Linked DNA regions of Homo sapiens. The protein of the gene in region 5 purifies or fractionates together with the protein of the main gene of each other region. This does not show direct contact. Each region holds a gene or a part of one and is shown on either strand. Other genes may lie near its edges.

Region 1 (3,500 bases), on a different chromosome or scaffold from region 5:
AGAAAACATTAGCTGGGTATGGTGGCGGGCGCCTGTGGTCCCAGCTACTCAGGAGGCTGAGGCAGGAGAATGGCGTGAACTTGGGAGGCGGAGCTTGCAGTGAGCCGAGATCGCGCCACTGCACTCCCAGCCTGGGCAACAGAGCAAGACTCTGTCTCAAAAAAAAAAAAAAAAAAGAAAGAAATATGCTTTTCCGTGGGCATAGTGGTGCATGCCTGTAATCCCAGCTACTCGGGAGGCTGAGGCAGGAGAATCTCTTGAACCTGGAAGGTGGAGGTTGCCGTGAGCTGAGATTGCACCACTGCACTCCAGCCTGGGTGACAGAGTAAGACTCTGTCTCAAAAAAAAAAAAAAAAAAAAAAAAAGAAATGTGCTTTACTCAATTTTATATTTGTAATTGTTTTAGAAAGATATTTAGAAAAGTATCTTTCTCACTACATCTTCGAGTCATGCAGGCACTCTGAAGAGCTATACTGTGTTTACCTTGGTACCCCAGTGGTATATCAGGACAAGCCTGGGGGCAAAAGAAGTTCATGGATCCAAGTTCCAGAAAGATATTATAAAGAAACTGCAAATTAAGTTGTTCACAAGTCATCACCATAAGTTATCTTGTCGTAAGTGTATGTTTTATAGGCAAGTGGCATCATTTTTGCAGAAGATACCCTCAGCACTTTGTTGGCAACACATCAAGGAGGATATGTCTGTTGCCACAGGACATCCAGAGGGCCAGCTGTGTCTGCTTGTCTGACGTGGATCGTAGGAATGAAAAAACTAAAAAGAAAACATCACTCTTTGCTTAGAAGACTATAATTAAATATAATACTTAAGGTATCCCAAGTGAAGGGATCAAAAGCCCTGGACAAGAAGAACCTACTAACTGTGTTCCTAACCACAACCTCAGCATCTGCTGAGTTAGTTCTTGTTCTCATCTGCCACACACACTACTTGCCTGGTAATAGTATTTCTGCCACAGAAAGTGCAAAAGATTTGTTAAAACTCTGGACAGAAGTCTGAACTACACAGTCCCCAGCATCCTTTATCATCATCAACCAAGTGGCTATTCTTTCTTTGTTTTTGAGACAGGGTCTCACTCTGTCACCCAGGCTGGAATGCACTATAGCCTTGACCTCCTGGGCTCAAGCAATCTTCCTGCCTCAGCCTCCTGAGTAGCTGGGACTATACCATGCCTGGCTAATTTTTTTTTTTTGGTAGAGACTGGGTCTCCCTATGTTGCCAGCTATTCTGAAAAGGCGCCTAGAGACGTCCCTGACGCTGGTCACGGTAGAAGGGCTGCCAATACGCTTGGCCAAGAGGTGCTCCCTGCTGAGCAAGCACTGCATTGGACAGCAGTGGGTGCATGTGTGGAATTACTCAGGTGAGAGATTTCTGATGTCTTGCTTCAACTTACACAGGACTGAAGACTTAAGAGACTCAGCTGTGTGTTGCTCTGGTTGCATCTCTGTGAATGTCTGGTTGGCCCTTCCTTTTCTAGCCTGCAACTGCTATTCCCGCCTTGTCTGTGGGCCTAGAGCAGAGTGGCCTCGGGCCACTTCATCTGAGGCCTCATGGACCACCCAGGGTGTGACTGCCATGCAGACCGACCACAAAAGCCTTTCTCCAGGGGGAAATGGACGATGACAGTAACAAGCTGCTCTTTTAAAGCCAGGCAGCCCCTGGGAATGGGAAATCATATCTCCTGCTGTGGTTTGAATAGGTGTCCCTCCAAAAAATTCATGTTGAAATTTAATCCCCAATGTGGCAGTTTTGAGAGGTGGGGCCTTTAAGAAGTGGTTGAATCATGAGTGCTCTGCCCTCATAAACTGATGAATCCATTCACCAATTAATAGATGAATCGGTTATCATGGGAAGGGAATTGGTGGCTTTACAAGAGGAAAAGAGACTTGAGCTAGCATGTTATCATGCTCAGCCCCCTCACGATGGTCCTGCATCACCTTGGGATACTGCCAAGTCCCCACCAGCAAGAAGGCCCTCACCAGGTACAGCTCCTGGACTTTGGACTTCTCAGTCTCCATAACTGTAAGAACTAAATTCCTTTTGTTTAATAAACTACCGAGTTTCAGGTATTCTGTTATAAGCAACAGAAAATGGACTAAAACACCTCCTAAGGCTCCCCAAACTTTAAAATGAAGGAAGCAGTCATGCTTGTGCAACTGCAGCTGCTGGTGTGGAATCACCTAGAAATTCTTCCTCCATGGAGACAGCCTATTAGCTAAGGAAAAAGAATCTATGGCCGTCAGAAGGCAGGGTGATTTAAGGTTAATGTCTTGCCACTTCGGAGTTCCTCCCGTTGGATGGAATCGGGTTGACCAGTTTCTCTGCCTCTAACTGGCTATTTTATGGAAGGTCTGTTCATTCCCTGTTTCAAAGCAACAAGCGTAACAGCAGAACATCTAGGAGTCCTGTGCCAAGAGATTCCTTTTTCCCACATGATCTGCCAAGAAAGGAGAATTCCAACTTATGAGTCTCATTAACAAGGTGGAGAAATTTCTTCTTCGCTCCATTTCAAAAGCAAATAAACTTAAGTAATGAAAATGCTAAAAGCAGAAGGCTCTGGTGTTGTATTAGTCTGTTCTCATGCTGCTAATAAAGACATACCCGAGACTGGGTACTTTGTAAAGGGAGGAGGTTTAATGGACTCACAATGCCACATGGCTGGGGAGGCCTCACAATCATGGCAGAAGACAAAGGAAGAGCAAAGGAACATCTTACATGGTGGCAGGCAAGAGAGCATGTACAGGGGACTCCCATTTATAAAACCATATCTCACGAGATTTACTTCTCAGGGGAAAGATCTACCCCCATGATTCAATTACCTTTCATCGGGTCTTTCCTACAACACATGGGAATTATGACAGCTACAATTCACAATGAGATTTGGGTGGGGACACAGCCAAGCCATATCAGGTGTTGCATATCTTCATTGGTCAAATGCAGAATAAAGTCATGCATAAACTAAGGGCTTCAATGGGAAGCCTATATACCCCTACTTCTCTGTCATAGGATTTGAGGGCTTCAGCATGAAGGTACCAGCTGTCAGAGTACTCAGGTGATGCTCAGAGAGGGGAGATTGTCCTCTACTAGATTTCTTTCTGGGGCCTTTGTTTCTTCCAGGAATCCCAGCAACAGTCATTTCACTCATCCTATTTTTACACCTTGGAGTCAAATAATGAGGAAGTACACTGCTCTCTAGTTCAGAGAGGGCAGCTCTGAGCCCTTACAGTTTTGCAATGAGCTAGGAAACAAACCCTGGCTTCCTGATTTTGCAGTTCATTTATCTCAAGCACCAAATGTCCAATTACTAATATTTACACAGGGATTTCTGACAGCAGGTGTATAGGAAGTGATAAGCCCAGGATGAAGCCTGAGCCAAGAAGAACTCTTCAGAGAGCAGCTGAGAGTCCACGAGTAACATGGAGAACCAGAACCACCGAAGCCCAGCCATGAGGAGGCTGGGTTAGACCCTGGCTCCCTGGGTCACC
Region 2 (3,500 bases), on a different chromosome or scaffold from region 5:
TCTGAAAAAGATATTAAGAAATTAATCCCAGGCCAGGATTCAATGTAATTTCTATCAAATGTAATTCCTATCAAATGTAATTCCTATCAAAATTCTAATGTCATTTTTCAAGGAAATAGAAAAAAAAATCCTAAAATTTGTACAGCACAACAAAAGACCCCAAAGAGCGAAAGCAATTTTGAGCAAAAAGAACAAAGGTGGAGTACCACACTATCTGACTTCAAAATATACTACAAACCTAATCAAATGGCATGGTACTGGCATAAAAGCTAACACAAAAACCAATGGAACAGGATAGAGAGTCCAGAAATAAACTCATGCATTTACCATCATCTGATTTTCAACAAAGGCACCAAGAACACACAATGGAGAAAGGACAATCTTTCAATAAACGGTATTAGGAAAACTGAATATCCACATGTAGAAGAATGAAATTAGACCCTTATCTCACAGCATATACAAAAATCAACTCAAACTGTATTAAAGACTTAAATGTACAGTCTGAAACTGTAAAACTACTAGAAGAAAACATTGGGAAAAGAAGCTCCATGACACAGGCCTGGCAAAGATTTCTTGGACTTGACCCCAAAAGCACAGGCAACAAAAGCAAAAATAAACAAATAGGATTGTATCAAACCAAAAGGCTTCTGTATGGCAAAGGAAACAACAGAGTGAAGAGATATCCCAGAATGAGTGAAAATCTTTGCAAACCATGCATCTTATATGGAGTTAATATTCAAAATATATAAGGAATTCAAATCAATAGCAAGAAAACAAAGAACTCAATTTAAAAATGGGCAAAGGACCCGAATAGACATTGCTCAAAAGACATACAAATGGCCAACAGATATAAGAAAAAATGCTCTTCACAACTAATTACCAGGAAAATGCAAATTAAAACCACAATGGGCTATCTCCTCACACCTGTTAGAATAGCTATCATCAAAAAGATGAAAGATAACAAGTGTTGGAGAAGATGTAGAGAAAAAGGAACTCTACTGCAGTTGGTGAGAATGTAAATTAATACAGTGATTATGGAAAACAATATGGAGGTTCCTCAGAAATCTGCAAACAGAATTACCATATGATCCAGCTATCCCACTTCTGGGTATATGGCCAAAGGAAATAAAACCAGTATGCTGAAAAAATATCTACACTCCCAAATTCATGGCAGCATTATTCACAATAGCTAAGATACAGAAGCAACCTAGATGTCCCTTATCATATAAATGGATAAAGAAAATGTTTATATATACATATATATATAAATGTCAGAATACTTTTTAGCCTTAAAAAGAAAACTCGGCCAGGTGCGGAGGCTCACGCCTGTAATCCCAGCACTTTGGGAGGCCGAGGCAAGGGGATCATGAGGTCAGGAGATCAAGACCATCCTGGCTAACACGGTGAAATCCCGTCTCCACTAAAAATACAAAAACTTAGCCAGGCGTTGGTGGCGGGCGCCTGTAGTCCCAGCTACTCCGGAGGCTGAGGCAGGAGAATGGCGTGAACCTGGGAGGCGGAGCTTGCAGCGAGCCGAGATGGAGCCACTGCACTCCAGCCTGGGCAACAGAGCTAGATTCCGTCTCAAGAGAAAAAAAAAGAAGAAAACTCTGTCATTTATGACAGCATGGATGAACCTAGTGGACAGTATGCTATGTGAAATGAGCCAAGCACAAAATGACAAATGCCTTGATGATCTCACTCATATGTGAAATCTAAAAAAGTTGAACTAATTGAAGTAGAATGGTGGTTATCAGAGGCTGGGGGAGAGGGGAAGATGGGGAAAGGAAAGATGTTGATCAGACGGTACAAAATTTCAGTTAGATAGAAGAAATTAGCTTTAGTGATGTATTGCACAGAGTGGTGACTATAATAAGTAATGCATTATATATTTCGCAATTATTAAAAAATAGATTTTAAATGTTTCCACCACACAAAAAATATAAGTATGTGAGCTGATGGATTTGTTAATTAGCTTGATTTACTCATTCCACAATGTAAACATATATCAAAACATCACGTTGTACCCCACAAATTATTATAAAATTATTTGTCAATTAAAAATAAAATTTTAAAAAACAAGGGCTCAAATTAGAAAGGGGAAAAAAAAGAAGTCAAGGAGAGATGGACTAGTTGGAAAAAAAGAGAGTCACTTAGCAATACGGGCAGAAGCATTAGAAAAATAACATCAGAAGAAACAGAAATTAGGAATCCACAGTCATTGATTCTACTTTCCATTTCTACTGGCTTTCCTTGCTGGTGGCTGCTTTGATTCTATGCGTGTACTTCCCAATAAAAATGGTGCTGTTTTCATTTATGATAAATTAGTAATAAATGTGTTTTTATTTGTCTAATGTATTACTACTATCCCAAGAAATCAACCTTGACTACTCACATCCCCTACTCCCAATATTACACAGGCCACCTAGTCTCACTAGATTTCCTAAATATGTATCTCTCTAATCTCTCCCTCTTTTCTACCCCCAGATAACTGCAGAACCCTTGTAATTGGTGTTCCTGTCTTCAGTCTCCTTTCACATCCCCACCTGCTTCCAAGTCATCTATCTTCCATTCAATAATTCATTCAACAAATATTTAAGCCCCTACTAATCCTTCTGAAAATGTTAGTCTACTGTACCCAATGCAATTTTCCAACTGAAAAGGGCTGGAAACAATCTAAATGTCCATCAATAGCAGGCTCATTTTAAGTAAATTGTGGGCCTTCAATAAAATGGAAAATTAAGCAGCCATAGGAAAGAAAAAAGAAGAGGGGGATAAAAAAGGATGCTTTTGATATATTGATATGGAAAGATCTCACCATGATGAGCTACAAGAACAAAGCAAGGTGCACAAATGCTAAGTATGGTATGCTGTCATTAGCGTGAAAGTAGGTTGAGGGATACAGGTACACTATTTTTGTATTTACTTATATTTGCAGAACATAGCTCTGAGGAAATATATAAGAAATGCATGCAGTGGTTGTCTGAGGGGAAAGTTACTGGGTAAATGAGAAATTGTTCACTATATACTCTTCTATATGTTTTTAAATTTTTAAACCACGTAAATATACTACCTGTTTTAAAAAATAAAGTGTCAATCTGACCATACTACTTTCCTACTTAAAACTGTCAGGAATTCCTATCGCCTTTCAGAATAACATATATAAACATCAGAGCTCATCTCTCACACTCTCTCTTGCCCTGTCTTTCACCCGCATTTCCATAAACCACTTTGTCTCTTGGTAAATATTGTCATGGTTCAAGGATCAGCTCCTCCAGGAGGCCTTTCCTGCCTGCATATCCCTCTAGCTCATGTGCCCTCACACACACAGTGTGTGTGTGTGTGTGTGTGTGTGAGAGTGTGTGTGTGTATATATATACATATATATATATATATATTTTTTAAGAGATGGAGTCCCACTCTGTCACCCCACGCTGGAGTGCAGAGGCGTGATCACAGCTCACAGCACCCTTGATCGTCTGGTCTCAAGCAACTCTCCC
Region 3 (2,289 bases), on a different chromosome or scaffold from region 5:
CCTCTTAAGGATGGAGACTACCCCAGACAGGCTCCCACCAGGGCCCTGAAGCTGTTCTTGTCAAGGTCACAGTGACCCATGTTGCTAAACCCAGTGGCCATTTCTCAGTCTTCATTTTACTTGACCTCTCAGTGGCACTGGCCACAGCTCTCCCTCCTCCTGGAAACACCTTCCCCTGCAGATGCCCAGGTCCTCAGCCCTGCCTGGCTGTCCTCTCACTCTCTGGCCACTCCTCAGTCTTCTCTGCTGATTTCCTCCCCATCTCCCTGACCTGTTAGCCCTAGGATTCAGTTCTCAGCCCTCTTCCCTGTCTACAGCTTACCCTTGATCTCATCCAATCCCATGTCATCAAATACCATCTATATACAGATGGCTTCTAAATTTACATCTTCAGACATCAGTCCCAAACTTGCATATTTAACTACATACTTGACATTTTGACTTGTGTTTCTAACAGTCATCTCAAATGGATCAAGTCCAAAGTTGGACCCCCGTCCCTCCTTCAGTCTTCCCCACTTCAATTAAGAGCAACTTTAGCTTTTCCATTTCCTCGGGAGTCATTTTTGACTCCGGTCTTCCTCTCGTGCTCTACAGCCAATCTATCAGCAGATCCCATTGGTTGTGCTTTCAAAATATACCTAGAATTTAAACCCAGGTTGTCTCACAATGGAGCCACTGGTTTCTAACCACTCCCCCTCCCCCGACTTATGCTGAAATTGCCTTCTCCACACCCACCAGCACCACAGAACTGCAGAGCTGGCTGGCTCGCCAGGCCTGTTCCTAAACTTTGACATTGTGAACTGACGCATGTTCCTTCCTGTCATCTTCCCCACAGAACCCCTCTATCCCAGGAGTGCTTTACTCTGGGTCCCTGGGCTTCCCTAGGGGGTTGCTAAGTCCTCTGAAGTAATGTGGGAGAAGAATCCTGGGTGGATGTGCATTTTTCTGGGGAGAAGGCTGACAGCTTTCATCAGATCTTCAGGAGGATCTGCGAGTCCCTCCAAAAAGACTGAGAGCCACCTGACTCCTTCGTTCCTCCTTGATCAGTACTTAACACTTTACATAGACATTCATGCATGTTCTCCAGATGTCCTTTATTTATATTCGTATTCATAAGTTCTCATACTACTTCTGGTCTTTTTAGTAGCTCTTTTAGGGCTGTAGCCACAGAACGGTCATTCTAGTGATTCTGAGCAGGGTGGAGAGGAGTGCAGCATCCCTGGGCGGGTGGGTCAGTGAAGACACGCCCAGCTCACCTGATATTCTGTGACTGGTTGCAGAACACAAGTCCCTCTCGAAATTGTTTAGGTTTGTGGGGAGATATCTGTAAGACAGAGTGAGAAAGCCTTATGGAAAAGGCCAAGAAGTGCTCAGCAGGCCTAGCAGAACGCTCAGGAATCCCACCCACACCATCCCTCATTTCTGGGTCTTTCTTCCTGGACATCTCAGGCCTCAGACCTGCATCCAGGAGCTGGAGCACCGCAGTGCTTCTGAACGCCTCTTCCAGTGGCACCTGCGGGCCTAGTGTCCCCACACCCGCTTGGGTGACAGAGGCCAATCAGTTGTCAAGCTTATGACTTCCAATCAGAGTGGTGGGGCCCTGAAATGACTTGCTCTTTGGGTCACTGTATGTAAAGCAATTTGCAGCTAGCGGCACTGGGCGGGTGACCCTGCCTGAGCCCAGTGAGGAGCAGGTCGTCTGCCTGCGGTGCTTCCAGGACCTGTTTGGAGACGACCACAATAAGAACGGGTTCAAAATGTTCGACTCCTCCAACTATCATGGCCAAGACCTGCTTTTCAAGGATGCCACCGTCCGGGCGGTGCCTGTCGGAGAGAAAACCACCTACCGCGGCTGGCTGGGGCTGGACTACGTGGCGGCGCTGGAAGGGATGTCGTCTCAGCAGTGCTCGGGCGCAGGTAGGACAGGCCCGCCCTGCCGCCTCCCCTGGTGCTATTCAGACCCCTTCACCCCAGAACCCTGAGGGAGCGGGGGGCGCTGCGGGTCCGGGGAGGCGGGTGGAGGCCCGTTCGCAGCAGTCCAGGTGGGGTGTCCCGGGAGGATTTTGGCCAGGAGGCTGCGGGCCGGGAGGGCGGGAGCCCGGCGGGTCTCCCAGACGGACCTGGGTAATGAGTGTGAACGCTCAAAACGGCGGCGCGGGGAGGATCTGGGGCCACGGCAGAGACATGCGTGTGCTGCCTTTCTGGAAAGAGCGCATCTGGAAGGGCAGCAGGGGAAAGGAGCACAAAGAGGGAGGCTGCGGCGAGTTCGGTCCCGAAAGATGCCCCCAC
Region 4 (3,500 bases), on a different chromosome or scaffold from region 5:
TGCTCCTGTCTTCCTTTGCTGTCCAGGGCCTGCCTCGAGGCAGGGGCTCCACCAAGGTGAGATGGAGGATAAAGGGCCCGGAAGCAGTGAGGGGTGATCCAGCCCCTCTTACCCCAACATATCTGAGAAAACCAGCCCAATGTGGACATAATTCACAGCCAGAATGCCTGGGACATCTGAGATGGGTGGTCTGATACACACACTCTGCCCCCGCCCTAGGGACTACAAGTTAAGGAAAGAGCCCAGGCCAGGCACACATGGGCTTGAGCGCCAGTTCTGTTACCTACTGCATATATATAAATCCCGCATCTCTCAGTACCTCAGTTTCCTCATCTGTCAAATGGGGCTGTGAACAGTACCACTTGCTACCAGGCTGTTCTGAGGCAACTAAGAGATAGCAGATGGGAAAGGGCTTGGCTCAGCCGCCAGTGAGAGGGGCTCAGCCACAAGTAACCTTCCTGACTCGGCCGGGCTAGGGTTGGATCTGGGTCCCATCACTTAGCTGGTGGTGGGCACATTTGGATAGCATTTGAGCCTCAAACTTCTCTACAAATAAGCATTTGTAAGATTACCCATCTACCAGATTGCCCTGAGGACTGAAAAAAAAATACGTGTACATCTTGTACCTAGAACAAGGTGGTTATCATGAAAGAAACCCACATGTCTGTACCCTGAGGGCCCCATGAGCTTGGACAGGTTTGGAAATGGAGCCTCACAACAGCCGCTGTCTCTTGTGTCTCTGGAGGCTCTTCCTGCCCCAGAGCGACACAGCCTCAGCTTCCCTGAGGCTTCCAGTTGCCAGGTCAGACCTGCAGGGTCAGCGCTGGGGTATCAGCACTTAGGCACGGTGGGCTGAGGCCAGAGGCGAGGTACCCCAGTGGTGGGTACCCTCAGGGCAGGGCAGTTCAGCGCCCACCCCTTGCCCAGCCTTGCCCAGTAAGCAGTGGTCTGGGCCAGACCCTATGCTGGGTGCTGAGATGAGTCAGATGGGGGTCCCTGCCAGGGGCATCTTGAGGTTCAGCGGTTAAGTGGGGAGGTGACACAGAACTGCAGAGACTCAGAGATTTCCTGCGGGAGGGGCTTCTCAGCTGCATCTTGAGGAGGAGGGTGGAGAATGAGGGGGAGCACTGCGTGAAATGGCACAGGTGAGAAACAGCCCCAGAGCCTCCTCGCTGGCACGGGGCAGGAGGCAGGTGGGGGACACGCCTACAGTGTCACACATTCCCTGGCAGTGGGCTTGTGAAGGGGTGTGGGGGAAGTCTGTTGGGATAGATCCCTTGCCCACACTTCACATGGGGGAGTGAAAGAGCAGGGGCTCTGGAGTCAGGGAGCCACAGCAGGCGGCTGAGGGCAAGGTGCTCCCTCTGAGCCTTGCTGTCCTCCCCTGTTACCTCTGGGCCTGTGGGGATGCAGGGGGACAAGCAGGGGCTGAGCTCCTGGCCACAGGAGGAGCTCTGTCTGTAGGGCTGTGTCCATCACGCCTCCTTCTCATGGAAGGGCAAGTCTAGGGTTTGAGCAAAGTCCAGATGTAAGGCAGTAAGAAACTGAGACAGGGGAACACTCCAGATTACAGATGAGAAAAGGGAGAGTGCCAAAAACATCCTTTGACAACATTGCTCTCTGCCTGGATGTTTTACAAATGGGGAAATCAGGGCCCATGCTGTAGTGGAGTGACTGTGGACTCGGAGCTTCAGTCCCTAGGCCTGGACTCAAGTCCTGGCCATCTACCCTGGAGAGAGTTACTGCATTTCTTTGGATCTCAGTTTCTACATCTGCAAAATGAAACTGGGCATCACCATGCCTCACCATCAGCCCGCCATTAGGATTGGCTGGGGTGTCACTGTGAAAGGCATTTGGTAAATGGTGAGTAGAGTGCCCCACGGCACTGTGGGTGATGGTGCTGAGGACAGTGGACACAATGGTGAGGGAGATGGTCATGGTGGTGGTGATGATGATTGTGGAGGGGATGGTAGTAATGGATGTGGTGATGGTGGTGGCGACAGTGATGGGTGGTGATCATGGTGATAGTGTTTAGGGGGTGGTGGTGATGGTAGTGGTAGTAATGGTCATTGTAGTGGTGAAGATGATGGTGGTAGTGGTGATGGTGGTGATGGTAGTGGTAGTAATGGTAGTGGTAGTGGTGGTCATAGCAGTGGTGAAGGGTGGTGGTGATGGTAGTTATGATGGTGGTGGTGATGGTAGTGGTAGTGATGGTCATTGTGGTGGTGAAGGGTGGTGGTGATGGTGAAGGGTGGTGGTGATGGTGGTGGTGATGGTGATGGTGGTGGTGGTGATGGTGAAGGGTAGTGGTGGTGGTGGTGATGGTGATGGTGGTGGTGATGGTGATGGTGGTGGTGGTGGTGGTGGTGATGGTGGTGGTGGTGGTGATGGTGGTGGTGATGGTGATGGTGGTGGTGATGGTGGTGGTGGTGATGGTGGTGAAGGGTGGTGGTGGTGATGGTGGTGGTGGTGGTGGTGATGGTGATGGTGGTGGTGCTGGTGATGGTGATGGTGGTGGTGGTGGTGGTGATGGTGATGGTGGTGGTGATGGTGGTGGTGGTGGTAGTGGTGATGGTGATGGTGGTGGTGCTGGTGATGGTGATGGTGGTGGTGGTGGTGATGGTGATGGTGGTGGTGATGGTGGTGATGGTGGTAGTGGTGATGGTGATGGTGGTGGTGGTGGTGATGGTAGTGGTAGTGATGGTCATCGTGGTGGTGGTGGTGATGGTAGTAGTCATGGTCATTATGGTGCTGAAGGTGGTAATTGTGATGGAAGGCAGCAAACACTTACTGAGCATTTACTAGGGAACCCACATCCTACTAAAGTGCTTTATTTGAATTATCCCATTTAATACTCACAACAACCCTTTGAGGTAGGTATTACCATCAAACTCATTTTATCTATGAGGAAACTGAAGTTACATTCCTTTCCAGGGTCACAGAGGAGGGAATTGGCAGAGCCAGGATATATTGAGACCATCTGACTCTAGCATCCATGCTCTTAACCCCTACATTCAACTTCCTTGGTGAGGCATGAATATGGCACTAGCAAATCACTGCTTTCACTGGTTAAGGTCCCCGACCCCACTAAGAGGGGCAGACAGAGCTCAGAACCTGGGGGTTCTGATACCATGTCCCAGCCCCACTGGAGGTCCTGAGGGACCCTGGGTGCAGGGTAGGGTGGCCAAACCTGTGAGCTGCAGGATCTGGTCATCAAGGTGCGTCACAGCCTCGTCATGCATGACCTGGCCTCCGATGACAAATTCCAGGCGTCCTTCCTCCAGGAGCTGGCGGACCTTGACATGGGCAGGCAGAGAGAAAAAAGCCAGTTACGGCTCCTGAGCATGGCTGGGTCTGTGGGGAACACACCTACAGCGCCACACACGCCCTGCATAAAACTCCCCACCCTTGCTTACTCTATAAAAGCAGGGCACTGTCTGTCCTGGTCCACACTGTGTTCCCACCACCTAGAAATCATGCAGCCCTCAGGTGGTATTTGA
Region 5 (3,500 bases):
TCCACAGCCTGGCTGGAAGTCACCCCCATTGGGGTAGATGTCAATGTGGCCCACAGGCATCTGAATACCAATGCTCAAGCCGAAGGAACGCGTGTAGGTGTGGAGGACATCCACAAAATCTGCATCGTCCGGAGAGAGCCTCTTGTGGATGTCGGCCCCTTCAAACATGGGCCCGGCAGGATCCAAACCTGCAGCAGAAGGAGGCCCCAAAACAGCTGTGGTGTCAGGTGCACCTGGTCAGTGAGTCCTGATTACAAGTTAAGTCTGAGTGTGCAGAATGAAGATGACTTCTGAGACCAGCTGGGAGAATCAAGACATGGAAAGCATGGAAGAAAATAAGAAACCCATTTCCATATGCAGTTGACCCCAAGACATCATTGCAGAAATTAAATCCTACTGTTATGGAATTTATACTTTCTTCTGAAGCCTTCATGTATCCCGTCACCTCAGCCAAACCCCGTCAACTAGCCACAAGTTTCGCTGCCACACAGCTCCAAGGAACTGCTCCTGTTAAAACTGAAGCAGTTCTAGAAAGAACTCAGACTGCCTGAAACTAAGCCATTTGTCCCATTCATTCTGCCACTGAGCATCTTTCATGTCCTTAATTGTAGCAGAATTTTTACAGAATAACTAAGCTGCCTACATCCTTCTGGAAGGAGAATCCAGTCTCCCCAAACGGAGCTATTTGTATCTGAATTTATTCTTCTTCCTTTAATCAGGCCCAGGGGTGGAATGGTGAGAGAGAAGAGGACACCCAATACACTGAGAATCCATACATCAGGCCTCCAGAATTCCTCTATTTTGCAGCCACCGTGAGAAAACCTTTCCGCCTCCAAACATTTTGTGTTGAGCAGGCAAGCAGCACTGTTGAGAGCACTGGTTCTCATATTTGAAATTGGGAGCTTGTTAAATTTAAATTCCACCATACAGCTACAAAAAAATCTGGAAGGACACACAAGCAACTAGTTACCTGTATGCGTGTGCGTTGGGGGAGAGAGTGGGTAAGGGAAACGGACAGGTAGCAGAGCAGTAAGAGAGACTTTCACCATCTTTTGATTTGAAAACTGCATTAATGTAAAACCATTCCAAAAGAGAACTTGCAAAGTATAAAATGCAGATTCCCAAGTGCCTGAACTCCTAGTGGGTAGATATGAATTATGGCACATAGAAATAGATATTTATTCCCCGGATGATCCTAAAAGTAGGTATTCTGTGGGCCAAATATTGAAAAACTTCCCTGTGTTTCATTATCATTTATAAAATGGAACCTGAATTTATACCTTAATTCAAAGTCCACGTGAGATCTTAAGAGACTGAGTGCCTGTCAGTATTAGCTACTATTACCAAGCCCAAGTGATTATGGGAACCAGATTTATCCCAACCAGAACAGCTCTTTGCCCCACAGACACACAGGAAGGACCTGGAGAAAGTTAAGGGATGAAATGTGCCAGGAAGGAAGGGCCGCTGGAACAGTGGTTCACCACTACAAGTGGCTTTGCCCCCCAGGGGACATCTGGAAATTCCTGGAGACCTTTTTATTGCCCCCATTCTGATGGAGAGAGTTGCTAGCATCTAGCAGGGCCAGGCCAGGAATACAGCTAAACATTCTACAGTGCACAAGTCAATCCCAACACACACACACCCCACACCAAAACCTTACCTGGCCCCAAATGTCAATATTGCCTAGGCTGAGAAAACCTGGCCTCGAAACACCAAGGCTGGGAGGAGATGTGACCAACAAGAGTCCTGAAAGGAGGACATGGTTAACGACCGTGTTCACCAGACCACAGCACATTAGAACCAGGGAGCCTATCAGGAGACTTGAGATGGTAGTTTCAGGATAAACAAGAGGCAGAGCTACCGTCTAGAGTGGACGGTCAACTTGCAGAACTCATTACTCATATGAGAACTGGTAGAGGCTGAAACGCTAAATAGTTTCCAAAAATTTAGATAACTTTTTTTTCTTTTTTTTTTTTTGAGTTGGAATCTTGCTCTGTCACCCAGGCTGGAGTGCAGTGGCACGATCTCGGCTCACTGCAGCCTCCGCCTCCTGGGTTCAAGCGATTCTCCTGCCTCAGCCTCCTGAGTAGCTGGGATTACAGGCATAAGCCACTGCACCCAGCCAAATTTAGATAACTTTATGTGCAACCAAGACAGAAAGGGAGCCCAGGCTGCTTGAGAGTTTATCCCTAGCCCAGGACCCAAAAGAAAGATGGCACAAAAGCAGTGTGCTCCCAGAACAGCCCACGACAACCCATTTCAGAGGCCGCAAGGACCGCAGTACTGACACAGCGGCCTCTCCCTGCCTCTCACCATGTCCCCTGGAGGAAAGAGAAAGAGAGCAACATTCTGCTTTGCAATCAATACAAGAGAGAGGCTCTTTACTTGGTGTGAACAAAGGTCCCCACCAGACGGTCAGTGCCATGGAAACCAGGCTGTGCTGGAGGAATGCAGGCAGCTGATGGGGTTTCACAGGCTGGCTGGCAGGCAAGGCTGGGCCTTCACCTACCCAGCCAGAGCCTGCCTGCCCTGCTCTGACTGTCCCTGACACATATCTGTGGCCCACAGATTCAGGGGTACAGTGGCACATTTAACTTTTTTAACTAGGGATGAATGACAGGGAGAACTGCCTCCTTAAATAAAGAGGAGATAGAGAACCTCCGCCGCTTCTTCCATTCAGTCATAGACTCCTCCAAAGTTGCTTTGTCCAGCAAATGGAGCACACACACATGCACACATGTAAAACTTCCAGGGCTGTGCATTCTGGCCCGGCAGGGCAGGGCCTGCTGTAGTTCAACGGCTACTTTTTTTTTTTTTTTTTTTTTTAAGACAGGGTCTCACTCTGTTGCCCAGGCTGGAGTGCAGTGGCCCAGTCTCGGCTCTCTGCAACCTCCACCTCCTGGGCTCAGGTGATTCTCCCACCTCAGCATCCCGAGTAGCTAGGATTACAGGCATGCACTACCATGCCTGGCTACTTTATCTCTGTCCACAGAAGAGAGGCAGCATGGCACAGCAGTGAGGTGCATGGGATCTGGAATCTGACAGCATGGGTTTGAGTCCCAGCTCTGCTACTTATAGGGCCCAGGATATTGGGCCCTTTACTTAATCACTGAGTCCTAGTTTCCCCCTCCGTAGAATGTTCAGGGTTGCTATGTGGTTCAGAGATAGCATAGAGTAGCTGTCATATATGAGGTGTTTTTTGTTTGTTTGTTTTTTATTTTTTATTTTTTATTTTTGAGACAGAGTCTCACTCTTGTCACCCAGCCTGGAGTGCAGTGGCGCAATCTCAGCCCACTGCAACCTCCGCATCCTGGGTTCAAGAGATTCTCCTGCTTCAGCCTCCTGAGTAGCTGGGATTACAGGCACCCACCACCATGCCCGGCTAATTTTTGTACTTTTAGTAGACATGGGGTTTCATCATGTTGGCCAGGCTGGTCTTGAACTCCTGACCTCAGGTGATCCACCCACCTCGGCCTCCCAAAGTGCTGGGGTTACAGGCG
Region 6 (3,500 bases), on a different chromosome or scaffold from region 5:
TACTTTGGTTTATTTACCACATGATAATTTTCTTCTTATTTATTGTTTTTTTTCTAAGACAAAGTCTAGCTTTGTCACCTAGGCTGGAGAGTAGTGGCACACTCTTGGCTCACTGCAGCCTCCTGGGTTCAAGCAATTCTCCTGCCTCAGCCTCCCAAGTAGCTGGGAGTATAGGCACCTCGCACCACGCCTGGCTAATTTTTTATTTTTAGTAGAGCGGGGGTTTCATCATGTTGATCAGGCTGGTCTTAGACCCCTGACCTCAAGTGATCTGGATAATTTTCAATTATAAACCAGTGGCCGGGCGCGGTGGCTCATGCCTGCAATCAGCACTTTGGGAGGCCGAGGTGGGCGGATCACGAGGTCAGGAGATCGAGACCATCCTGGCTAACACGGTGAAACCCCGTTTCTACTAAAAATACAAAAAAATTAGCCGGGCATGGTGGCAGGTGCCTGTAGTCCCAGCTACTCGGGAGGCTGAGGCGGGAGAATGGTGTGAACCCAGGAGGCGGAGCTTGCAGTGAGCCGAGATGGCGCCACTGCACTCCAGCCTGGGTGACAGAGTGAGACTCTGTCTAAAAAAAAAAAAAAGAAAACCAGTAACCTAAATCTCATGGTTGTTATCAGGCTAGTGAAAAGACTCATCAGTTTAAGAAAATGCTCCCTGAAAAGCTGTTTCACAAAAGCTTTTTGAAACACAAAAGACCCTTCCAATTTATGAAGACGCTGCTTCATTTAGTGGGATTTTATCACCAGTCAACTAAATGTTCTTCCCTCAACATCTTCCATGACAGCCATCCATACCTCACCTCTTCTTCATTTAGATAAACCAGAAAAATATCCGCAGCTGACAGTAAAGAGAGACCTAGCCTTCTGGTGGGTTTCCCAGTAATTCTGTCTCTCAATTTCTCCACACAATATTGTGATATAGAAAATCTATTGAGATTCTAAGTTAGATGTGGCTATCTTTAGTTCTGATTTTCTACTTCATGTTTGTCAAAAGCTATTGTATTACCTATATTTTTCCTTCAGTTCTTTTTGAGACAGGTTCTCACTCTGTCATCCAGGCTGGAATGCAGCGGCGTGATCTTGGCTCACTGCAACGTCCACCTCCTGGGCTCAAGCGATCCTCCTCCCTCAGCCCCCCAAGTAGTTGGGACTACAGGCGTGCACCGCCATGCCCGGCTAGTTTTTGTTTTTTTTGTAGAGACAGGGTTTTCTCCATGTTGGTCAGGCTGGTCTCGAACTCCTGACCTCAGGTGATCTGCCCACCTCGGCCTCCCAAAGTGGTAAGATTATAGGCATGAGCCCCCATGCCCTGGCCTTTGTCTTCAATTCGTAAGTAAACATCTCATTTCATGTAAAACTCACTCCATGTACTCCTATAGAAGCCCTTTTTGGATGATTCTCAGAGTATGCTGGAGAAATACTTCCTTCAAATCAGTGGTTCTTTTTTTAAAACAGGGTCTCACTCTATTGCCCAGGGTGGAGTGCAATGGTGCCATCACGGCTCACTGCAGCCTCAACCTCCCGGGCTCAGGTGATCCTCCCGCTCAGCCTCCCAAGTAACTGGAACTACAGGTCCATGCCACCATCCCCAGTTAATTTTTCAATTTTTTGTAGAGATGGGGTATCGCTGTGTTGCCCAGGCTGGTCTCAAACTCCTGGGCTCAAGTGATCTTCCCACCTCGGCCTCCTAAAGTGCTGGAATTACAGGTATAAGCCACCACATCTGGCCACCAGTGGTTCTTAAAATGCACATATACACAACATGTTGAATAGACGTTTAGGAGTTGATGTCCACCCCCTGCCCCACCCCCGAAGCCCATCCAGTATGAAAACTAGCCAGCAAGGCAGCAAAGTTCACTTCAGAAATGCAGATTCTCTGTCACAGTTTATAATTATGAACACAACACACACAAGTATTTCCAGTTGTAAAGGTCCCTCCCACCTTCACCAAAGCCAGCCGGATGCAAGAACGCCTGGTCTCCTTACCACAGAGCCGGTGGAGGGACTTCTCTGAGTAGGTGTCTCGGTCGCAGCCTTTCCCTATGTGGCTGGTTTCTAGCTCCACTGTGGCCTGTACTGAGGCGACTGGCTCGTCACATGTCTCCAGGTGGATATTTGGAAAGACGGCCAACGCGCCGGTGCCCGGCTCATACTCAATCCTGTTGTTCCATCCTGTGTTGGTCCACAAGTCAGCAGGGGAAGAGAGAAGGAAAACACACACTCTAGGTTGCTGCCGCATACATCAGTTTTAAGAGCAGATGTGAGCGCAGGGGAGAGAATGAAGCTCACCTTGCCACCCAGGGGTGCAGGTGGGCTTAATGCTGATCTTCACCAAAACATCTTCTGTGGCTCTTTTCTTCCCACAGTCATAGGCAGTGACGGTCAGCTTATATTGATGTTCTTTCCCGTAGTTTAATTTCTCTGTGTTTTTTATATAACCTTACAGAGGGCAAAAACAACAGTGAGAGCCAAAACCCATGCTGGTTTTACTTTTGTTGTCCTAGGCGGAAAGACAAAATGCATAGGCTTTAAGCCCTGTAAATACTCAGCCAGAAATAAACATATGCTTGGGATGCTTAACCCTCAACCTGTCCTCCCTGAGCCCTAACACGCACTAAATCCATCCTGAAGAGTTTCAACAGAAGAGACGGAGCTACACAGCTCAGTCTCCACTTACTCTCACAGTGTTACATTGGGCTTTACATTAAGATTTAACTGTTTACATACATTCAGAGGATTAAAAAATAATAATAATTCAAGTACCTCAAATATTAAATATAAGATCGCTGATCAAACATTTACTATATTAAAAGAAAGAGAGATTTCCTACCCCCACCTGCTTAGAACAGAAGCCTGCTTTTTGAACGTGGTGAGTATAGATCTCTGGAAAGTGTTTGCAATGTCCATAATTCCATCAAAGATTCTAGACCGTGCATTGATTAACAATGGAAACACTGTATTATCTTTTTTTTTCTTTTTGGAACAGGGTCTCGTTCTCTTGCCCAGGCTGGAGTGCAGTGGCCTGATCTCGGCTCACTGCAACCTCTGCCTCCTGGGTTCAAGCGATTCTCCCACTTCAGCCTCCCAAATAGCTGGGACTACAGGTGTGTGCCTGCAGTCCCAGCTACTAGCGAGGCTGTGGCGGGAGGATCCCGTGAGCCCAGGAGTTCGAGGTTACAGTGAGCAGTGACTGCACCACTACATTCCAGCCTGGGCGACAGAGCAAGACCTTCCCTCAAACAAAAAAAAAAAAAAAAAAGATGTCACAGGAGATTCTAACTTAATGGAGAACATGGCCAGGCGCGGTGGCTCACACATGTAATCCCAGCACTTTGGGAGGCCAAGGTGGGCGGATCACCTGAGGTCAGGAGTTCAAGACCAGTCTGGCCAACATGGTGAAACCCTATCTCTACTAAAAATACAAACAACAACAACAAAAAATTAGCTGGGCGTGGTGGTGGGCACCTGTAATCCCAGCTACTCGAGAGGCT
Region 7 (3,500 bases), on a different chromosome or scaffold from region 5:
GTCATTATTATTTTATTGTTACAATTTATGTTTCCCATAAAACGTTTTTAAAAAGAAAAAAATATTGCCGGGTGCGATGGCTCACGCCTGTAGTCCCAGCACTTTGGGAGGCCAATGCAGGCAGATCGCTTGAGTCCAGGAGTTCAAGACCAGCCCAGGCAACATGGCAAAACCCTGTCTCTACTAAAAATACAAAAAATTAGCTGGGTGTCATGGCACAGGCCTATAGTCCCAGCTACTTGGGGGGCTGAGGTCAGAGGACCACTTGAGCCTGGGAGGCTGAGGCTGCAGTGAGCGAGCCCTCATCTTGCCACTGCACTCGAGCCTGGGAGACAGAGTCAGACCCTGTCTCAAAAAAAAAAAAAAAATATATATATATATACACACACACACACGTGCACACACACACACACACACACACACACATATGTATATATAAACACCAAGATAATCAGGATAGATGAAATTTTTAAAAATCATCTTGTCAACTATAACCCAACACTTAAGCTTGTCTTTTATTTCAACTTTATTCCTACAAAATACTATTACAAGTCAATCTTATTTACTACATTTTTAATATTCCCCACTTAGGTATTTGAAATTTCAGTTGTTAGAACTGTTTCCTTACATGTATCCAACCTAATATTTTTAAATTTATGTTTGATGGCTACAAATTAACTATGGCTTGAGAAACTTTCAAGAAAAAAAAAACTTCACAAAATAAATTTAATCTGCAGTCAATATTTCCTCTGTACATTAATAAGCTCTAAAAGTGATTCAAAAAAATCATCACTTATAGGCAAAAACTCTTAAGCAACCATTGATTTCCACTATTTATGATGAAAAAAATCTGTAAAATTTCTAGTATCAGAAGCTCAAGTATCAAGCAGGTAATATCAGTAACAGTCAAATATAAGCACATGCTATCAACAACCACAAACTGTCCAACTAAAAAATGTAAACAGTTAAATGGGATCTTGAATGAGATCTTGGTAGCAGCTGTATCACTAGCATTTGCCATTCTGCCAGTTGTTTAGAGGCTATTCGAAATAGCAGGAATTTATCTGCTCAAACTAACGTCACTTAAATTTCATCTCCTTCATTCCTGCAATTGTGTTCCATATTTCAAATTCTCAAAGACCCATGATTCTTTCTGATGAGGAAAAATCAAATTTACATGCCTTTTGTAATTAAATTGCATTGAAAGCATCTCCAATTTTTGCGAGTCAGCTTCACTTGTTTTCATGCTATATCCTAAATTACACCACCAAAGAAACTTCTGTTTGTTCTTTTTATAGAACTGTCCTATGGGTTAAAAAGTCAAATTCAGGGCAACACAGGCATTTTGGCTAGATTCACCTCTCTCAATGAATACTACTGCATCATGCTTTCGAACAACACAATATTCTTGCATTCTCTAATTTATTACTGGCAGTAATACTGGCAAACCATTTAAGATCATTTATGGTTAAAATGAGAATGATCTTTTAGAAGACACATAATTTTGACAGAAAACCACAGGATTTGGGAGTCCAGTGAGAAGAAGCCTACATCAAGTTGACACTAAGAACAAAAGCAAGATGAAGGGACTCAACACCACAGACACTCAAGCCAATTACGGTCAAGCTATAAGCAAAAAAATTTACACACACAGCAAAATTAAGTATATACACATGGCTTGTGTTAAGCAAAAACACAAGCAGAACACTCATTTAACTAGGGATGAATGAATACACTTAGAAAAAAATACACTAGTGAAAGAAGGATTGGCATTAATCAGGCTAGTCACCTGTTTAAAGCACGTATTTAGCATCATCAACTGGAAGTAATTTTTACACAAATATGACAACTTGCAGAGAACAGGTAAGCTACTGATTTTCCCATTTTGAGTCTGTAAAATGCAAGAACGGAACTTACTTTCATTAGCTCTGCCCTCAATAACTAAAAATGTGAATTTGTTTTGAAATGCATAAAAAATAAGATGGATTGATGGAAAGATGGACAGATCTGTGATAAAGCAAGTACAGTAAAATGTTAATGTAAAAACCTTTAGGTGGGCATGTGGGTATCTAATGTAAAGTTCTTTCAACCTGGCTGTAGGTGAAAATGTTTACAATATGTTGGGTGAAAATTGTGGAGTTTGCCTTTTCTGATCAAACTCTCCTACAACAGAAACAATGCTACATTCCAAAACCACACTTAAAATGTAGCAGACATTCACATCATAGGAACTAATTTATGAACGTAATACTTCCTACAGCTATATCTTACCAAAAAGGGAGGGGTAGTAAGGAGAACCATGGAAAGACTAACCCTTTGAAAAAATAACTAATAAGAGTAATAGATAGAATATCTTATATTGGCTTCTTGAGGATCTAGGTTTGTTTGTAACTGGATTCAAAATCTGAGTAAATCATAGCACTAGATTAGTTTGGTTTCAAACAAATGGTAAAAAATATGAATGGCTAACAGAATGTTCATTTTTACCCAGATTAAATAGCTACAACTAAACTGTTTAGATAGAATGTGCTGTGTATGGGGGAAACTGCCATATGAACTTTAACCCTATTTTTAAATTTTAGCTTCATTTTAATATATGACTCAAGTACAGGTAAAAGCATTTTCTTCTAAATGAACAACAAATCAGTATGTGTAATATGTATGATACCAACAGGAATCTTAAAACAAACCATAAATACATCACAAAGATTTTAGTACCTACCATCTTAGCCTTCCTTAACTTACTGAAGAACCCGATACCTCCAGAGATAGATGTCGTTGAAGAATAAAAAAAGCCAGCGGTAATATCAAATTTCATCTGATAATCATATCTTCAAATAATTGCCCAGATATTTTAAAGTGAAGTGATTGTACTGTCACATCATAATCAACTTTTAACTAGTTTCACTACCATAGGGTAGCTGAAATAATATGAGATCTCCACCATTGTTTTTAAAAACTTGATTCCTTTCTATTACAAACTGAGTATATATTAATGAAATACAGGGCAAGAAAAATTCAAAAGCAACCCCTAAATCTGAAGAAACACTTAATGGGAGGAGGGGACAAGCATACTTACCATAGCAGTTACTTTTTTTGACCTCTTCTATTCAACAGTATAAATCAAGTATTGAAAAGAGACCTGTCTCTTCTATTTCTATCACATGTATGCTCATTTCATCTGAGGGGAATAATTTGTATTTCTGACAAAACAGAAGTTTATCTGTTGTTAAAAAAATTCAAATTTTCTGTGAAAGATGTATTACTATGACCCTTCCCTTTCCAAAGCTTAAAAATGCCTTAAAATACTCACCTGAAAGCTTTCTTTCCAGAAACATGTTCACTTAAGCAATGCTTTGAAATCATTGCTATTGATCATTTACATATTTTTAGTTTATACACATTATTGTAACTTTATAGACCTAATTTCTATTTCATTTTATCTTTGAAGCATAACCTGGCTTATGCAAGAACAAACTATACTATTTCTGTAAGGTCTT

The links.
Region 1: the proteins of LIPG (region 5) and LOXL2 purify together in Homo sapiens (affinity purification with mass spectrometry; one large-scale study listed by BioGRID and IntAct). This does not show direct contact.
Region 2: the proteins of LIPG (region 5) and SUMF1 purify together in Homo sapiens (affinity purification with mass spectrometry; one large-scale study listed by BioGRID and IntAct). This does not show direct contact.
Region 3: the proteins of LIPG (region 5) and MELTF purify together in Homo sapiens (affinity purification with mass spectrometry; one large-scale study listed by BioGRID and IntAct). This does not show direct contact.
Region 4: the proteins of LIPG (region 5) and MAN2B2 purify together in Homo sapiens (affinity purification with mass spectrometry; one large-scale study listed by BioGRID and IntAct). This does not show direct contact.
Region 6: the proteins of LIPG (region 5) and CLSTN1 purify together in Homo sapiens (affinity purification with mass spectrometry; one large-scale study listed by BioGRID and IntAct). This does not show direct contact.
Region 7: the proteins of LIPG (region 5) and DNAJC13 purify together in Homo sapiens (affinity purification with mass spectrometry; 2 studies listed by BioGRID and IntAct, with this or other methods). This does not show direct contact.

What each region holds. Positions count from the first base shown.
Region 1 is NC_000008.11:23,397,621-23,401,120, forward strand, and holds part of LOXL2 (lysyl oxidase homolog 2 precursor), read right to left. Parts: intron 1-3,500. UniProt on the Homo sapiens protein: Mediates the post-translational oxidative deamination of lysine residues on target proteins leading to the formation of deaminated lysine (allysine).
Region 2 is NC_000003.12:4,457,270-4,460,769, forward strand, and holds part of SUMF1 (formylglycine-generating enzyme isoform 1 precursor), read right to left. Parts: intron 1-3,500.
Region 3 is NC_000003.12:197,003,529-197,005,817, reverse strand, and holds part of MELTF (melanotransferrin isoform 1 preproprotein), read left to right. Parts: intron 1-1,073; exon of another isoform or gene 1,074-1,324; intron 1,325-1,458; exon of another isoform or gene 1,459-1,637; coding exon of another isoform or gene 1,638-1,718; coding exon 1,719-1,917; exon of another isoform or gene 1,918-2,216; intron 2,217-2,289. UniProt on the Homo sapiens protein: Involved in iron cellular uptake. Seems to be internalized and then recycled back to the cell membrane. Binds a single atom of iron per subunit. Could also bind zinc.
Region 4 is NC_000004.12:6,578,189-6,581,688, reverse strand, and holds part of MAN2B2 (epididymis-specific alpha-mannosidase isoform 1 precursor), read right to left. Parts: intron 3,297-3,500; coding exon 3,191-3,296; intron 1-3,190.
Region 5 is NC_000018.10:49,572,057-49,575,556, reverse strand, and holds part of LIPG (endothelial lipase isoform 1 precursor), read right to left. Parts: intron 301-3,500; coding exon of another isoform or gene 224-300; exon of another isoform or gene 195-223; intron 189-194; coding exon 1-188. UniProt on the Homo sapiens protein: Exerts both phospholipase and triglyceride lipase activities. More active as a phospholipase than a triglyceride lipase.
Region 6 is NC_000001.11:9,747,466-9,750,965, forward strand, and holds part of CLSTN1 (calsyntenin-1 isoform 1 precursor), read right to left. Parts: intron 2,449-3,500; coding exon 2,299-2,448; intron 2,182-2,298; coding exon 1,996-2,181; intron 1-1,995. UniProt on the Homo sapiens protein: Postsynaptic adhesion molecule that binds to presynaptic neurexins to mediate both excitatory and inhibitory synapse formation.
Region 7 is NC_000003.12:132,424,002-132,427,501, reverse strand, and holds part of DNAJC13 (dnaJ homolog subfamily C member 13), read right to left. Parts: intron 1-3,500.